Linked DNA regions of Homo sapiens. The protein of the gene in region 1 interacts with the protein of each later gene in a pairwise test. Each region holds a gene or a part of one and is shown in the gene's direction. Other genes may lie near its edges.

Evidence for each region. Proteins that work in one complex are often made in the same cells at the same time.
Region 2: the proteins of RXRB (region 1) and UBL7 interact in binary tests that used the Homo sapiens proteins (3 or more experiments, as listed by UniProt).

Annotation. Positions count from the first base shown.
Region 1 is NC_000006.12:33,193,088-33,195,376, reverse strand, and holds the end of RXRB (retinoic acid receptor RXR-beta), read left to right. Parts: coding exon 1-14; intron 15-326; coding exon 327-432; intron 433-547; coding exon 548-695; 3' UTR 696-1,789; downstream 1,790-2,289. UniProt on the Homo sapiens protein: Receptor for retinoic acid. Retinoic acid receptors bind as heterodimers to their target response elements in response to their ligands, all-trans or 9-cis retinoic acid, and regulate gene expression in various biological processes.
Region 2 is NC_000015.10:74,445,477-74,448,318, reverse strand, and holds the end of UBL7 (ubiquitin-like protein 7), read left to right. Parts: intron 1-2,091; coding exon 2,092-2,229; 3' UTR 2,230-2,342; downstream 2,343-2,842.

The DNA of each region.
Region 1 (2,289 bases):
TCTGTTTAATCCAGGTAAGAGGAGGATTACCTTTGTCTCTCAAGGCCAAGGCAACCTTGGAGCCTCCTCTTCTCCGAGACTCCTAAGTTACCCAGCTATCCCCCTCAGTAAGACCCTCAACCTGGAAATCTCCCAACTGGCCGAGGAAAAACCCACATCCACGGATCCATCCCACAAACCCAGTGGGCCCTGCTTCCCTTGCCAGGCCTCTGGTAAAGGGCAAGCAAGTGCAGCCCAAAAGGGGCATCCTGTGGCTCACATCTGCATGGCCATCCTGATTTGGTTTGTCTTCATTTCTCTTCCTCCTCTCTTCCCTGCCATCCCAGATGCCAAGGGCCTCTCCAACCCTAGTGAGGTGGAGGTCCTGCGGGAGAAAGTGTATGCATCACTGGAGACCTACTGCAAACAGAAGTACCCTGAGCAGCAGGGACGGTGAGATGGGGCTGGGGGGCACTGAGGCTCCCTTGGGGGTGGGGAGTGCTATGAGGATGTGTTCAGGGCCCGTGTGCTTCCAGCTCTCAATCCCCTTCTCCCACCTCCACCCCAGGTTTGCCAAGCTGCTGCTACGTCTTCCTGCCCTCCGGTCCATTGGCCTTAAGTGTCTAGAGCATCTGTTTTTCTTCAAGCTCATTGGTGACACCCCCATCGACACCTTCCTCATGGAGATGCTTGAGGCTCCCCATCAACTGGCCTGAGCTCAGACCCAGACGTGGTGCTTCTCACACTGGAGGAGCACACATCCAAGAGGGACTCCAAGCCCTGGGGCAGGGTGGGGGGCCATGTTCCCAGAACCTTGATGGGGTGAGAAGTACAGGGCAGAACCAAGAACATAAACCCTCCAAGGGATCTGCTTGATATCCCAAGTTGGAAGGGACCCCAGATACCTGTGAGGACTGGTTGTCTCTCTTCGGTGGCCTTGAGTCTCTGAATTTGTCGGGTTCTCCCATGATTTGGGGTGATTTCTCACCCTCTGTCCTTCCCCCAGCACAAAGCACTGGCCTTGCCTCCAGGACCTTGCTTCCTTCTCATCTTGCCTCATTTTGCTTCCCATCTGAAGAGTGGAAATGGGGAACTCCCCCAGAGGTGGATACTGGGGGGCAGGCCTCCCAAGCTGATGGACATGAGAGTAGGGCCCTGACAGGCCTTCCTCCTCTCAAACCTGGCAGATGGGGGCCTCTCTGGAAGAGGGAGGGGCCCTGTCACTGTCCAGAGTCTCTTTTTACACTTCACCTCCTTCTGCAGTCAGACTGAAATATAAAAAAGGTGGTGGTGGTGGTGAAGGGGCTGGTGGAGATGTAGGAACCGATCTGCTATTTTTAATTTCCTGTGAGGATAGAGACTTGCAGTTAGACTCAAAGAAGTACTGTACTTTCCCAGGTTGACTAAGAAATGCCAGTGGTGGAGGTGGGTGTTTGGGAAAGGCAGGGCCCTGAAATGGCCTGTCCCTAGGGCTCTCCAAGCACTAGCCTTCCCAGCTTCCCGCCGCCCCCCCTATCTCTTCCTGTCTAACTTGGGGAAGGGGCCTGGGCTGTGAGGACAGGGCCCCCACAGGGGATGGTTTCACGAGTGTAGTCCCGGAGGCCTTCCCTTTACAGCTCTCCTCCAGCCCTGGGCACATAGCATAGGCTGGGGACACAGGATCCTGGCCTGAGAATTGAGGGGAGGTGGCCAGCCCGCAGAGGTGGGGTGCTGGGGCTGCATGATTTTTGCCCTGCGTCCCTTCTCTTTGGGGCTCCTTTCCCCTCTCATACATAAAATCGCTTTCAAATTAAAATCGCTGTTTTCTGGACTGAGGTGACTGTATGAGGATGGGCAGCGCCGTTTCGGGCTTGGGGGGGGTATCCGGTTGGGAGCTCCGGACGCGATCCCTGGACGCCGCCGCCGAGGTTCCGTGGGGCCCAAGAGGTGCACGCAGGGTGGGGGACACAAGGCAAGCTTTGTCGGGGAGGGGGGGAGAGGGTGTGCCAGGCTGGGGGCGGGGCCGGCCGGAGGAGGAAGGGGGGGCGGTGGATTCTCAAAGGCGCCTTGTTCGCTCGTGCCCTCTCCGCGCCAGCGGGCGGCGGCGCCTCGGCTCGCTGCGGCCTTCCCTCCGGGCGCGCTGCGGGCTCCGGGCAGACCCGGCGCCGTGCCCGCTCGTGGGGGCGCACTGGGCGCCGAGCGCTGCGTGCTTCTCAGGCGTTGCCCGCCCGGAGGCGGCCCACGTCCCCGAGTGACCCCATTTCCCTGGACCCTTCCAACCAGAGTCGACTGCTCGCTCATCTTACCACTGCTCCCCCTCTACCTCGGCTC
Region 2 (2,842 bases), on another chromosome or scaffold:
GCACACTCTCAGACCATACACAGTGGTCACTAGGCTTCTCCTGCCCCTAGTGACCATGGCCTGACTCCCTAGACCACCTGGCTTAGATAATCATGGCCATTTCATTCATTCATTCAGTGATCATTGACTGAGCATGTGTATACTAGGCCTGAGTCCAGATGCTGGGCTAGTGGCAAGCTGGTTCTCATCCCTGCCATGGAGGGGCACCAGGCAGGCACTGAGCTGGGGAGCAACAAGGCAAGAAACCCAGCTGCTTGAAGTAAGGGCCTAGGTCAGACAAAACTTTTCTGAGAGAGGGGTATTTAAGCTGATTGTCAGAAGAATTAGTTAGAAGTTAGCTAGCCAGGGAAGGGGGTTTGAGGTAGGAAGGGGCTGATTTCCAGGTGAAGACAGCTACCTGTTTGTGCACATGTGTGGAGGTATATGTGACATACTCAAAACTACAAGGCTAGGATGCAGTGTCCAGTGTAGAAGATCCGCAGATGGGGCCAGAGAAAGAGCAGGAGCCTACGAGAGGGGCTTGCATGCCAACCTGCGGAGATTAGACTTGATGACTTGATGTAGCAGTCACCAGGGATCCCTGGGAGGCATTGATTGATTGATTGATTGATTGAGACAGGGTGTCACTCTGTCACCCAGGCTGGAGTACAGTGGTGTGATCACAACTTACTGTAGCCTCAACTTCCTGGGCTCAGGTGATCCTCCCACCTCAGCCTCCCGGGTAGCTGGGACTACAGGTATGCACCACCATGCCTGGCTAATTTTTTGTATTTTTTGTAGAGATGGGGGGGTCTCCCTATGTTGCCCAGCCTGGTCTTGAACTCTTGGGCTCAAGCGATTCACCCACCTTAGCCTCCCAGAGTTCTGGGATTACAGGTGTGAGCCACCACACCTGGCCCATGGGAGGCTTTAAGGAGGAGAAAGGTCACCCTAGCAGCTAAGTGGAATACCTGAGGGGCCAGCATTGTAGTTCACAGCTCCATGCATGAGCAGTTTGGTTCACGTCTGTTTTCCTCTATTCCACATAGTAAGCCTATGGGTAGAGCATCATCCCTGGAACTTGTCTGGGGTCATAAGGCCATGAAGTCGTAACGATAGGGTTCAAGCCTGTGTGGTTTTCACTGTTCCATGTGGTCCTTGTAGACAGTGAGGGAACAGAAGCAGGATTCGTGAACAACTTGTCTTCTCCATTCTTGCATCTCCCCTGTTGCTAGATGCCTGTTTACTTTATTCCCTAGCTCAGAAGCTTTCACTGGTTCCACCTGGCCTGTAAAATGAATTCAAATTGATCTGTGTGCATTTTTTTTAAGCCCTCCATGTTCTCATCACTGCCTGCCTCTTTGACTTTGCTTTTCTTCCCCTTTGCATTGCCTTCTTCCCACATGTGAACACGTTGTTTTCCCTAAATTGTGCTCATCCCTGCTGTCATGAAATAGAGATATTAATGAAGCTATGAAAGTACTAGAAGAAAATATGGGTGAATTTCTTCAAATCCTTATAGTAGGGAAGGGCTTTCTTGGCTGAAACTCAGTATCCAGGAGCCATTAAATAAAAGTTATGCATTTTGGGTTTGTAAAAGCGAAAAATTTAAAACATCTCTTACAGTCCACAAATAGATATACCTACTATATACCACAAAAATTTAAGACATTTAAAAAAAGGTGAAAATTTCTGCGTGGCAAACCAAACCAAACAAAAAACCGAAGCAAAGTCCAAAGGCTAACAAACTGGGAAAAAAATCTGTAACACTCATCACATAAAGAGCAAAATCTTGCTGTTGTGTGTGTACACATAGCAAGAGAAAGAAAGTAATTTAGCCTCTTGGAATTCAGACAGTGAATAATTTGTACATTCTCTTTTGATCCTTATGCCAAGAATTTCCTTTTTTTATTGTAAAACTTTGGATTTGTTCTCTTAACCCTCAAGCCTATCTTTTAGTCTTCCTAGAAGCACCGTGTTCTGTGGAACTCAGCATCAGCAGCTTTGCTGAGGACTCCCCCATCTTCCTTTCCTTCCCCGGAAAGCACAGACCTAAGTGAGTCTTCACTGGATCCCAGCTAACAGCTTCTGCCCATTCCTATCTTTCCACAGAGCCAGTGGCAGCCCCAGCTGCAGCAGCTACGTGACATGGGCATCCAGGACGATGAGCTGAGCCTGCGGGCCCTGCAGGCCACCGGTGGGGACATCCAAGCAGCCCTGGAGCTCATCTTTGCTGGAGGAGCCCCATGAACTCCCTGCTTCCCCTGAACCCCCAGCAAGTTGCAGAGGCTACTGCCCTTGGGAGGCACTCATGAAGGTGCCTCCATCTCTCCCTTCCCCAATATACCTGATGGTCAACTCTCCTGCTTTGTCCAGTTCTTGACCTTTCTGGCTGATCTGAGTTGGTGGAGGCAGTGGGGCAAACAAGGTGTGCTGGTCTTGATGCTGTGGCATCAAAGCAGGGCTGGCCCCTAGTTCTGGGCCCTGGATGGAGGATGTTAGACCCTACATCATGGGATGCTGTGAGATACCCATGTTAACTTCTGGGAGAAGTTTCCAGCCGTAGCCCCCAGACTCTCTGGGGCTTTGGAGTTTGGGAGCCTCAGGATGTGCCGAAGTCTAGGCAGAGCTATCACCCAATCTTCAGGGTGGCTGCTGGATTACAGCTGTGCCCAGAAGAGGCTTATGCTTCCGAGATGTCCAGTCTATGGAGTGGCTGGGTGGACTTTCAGGGGAAGCACATGGAGGCAGCTTGCCTTCCACATTTCTCTCTCTCTCAATGGCTTCCACAGATTTCTTTGTCCACCCCACCAGTCTATTCTCACCAAGCATTTTTTGATGCTTGTTCTGTAATGATTCCAGA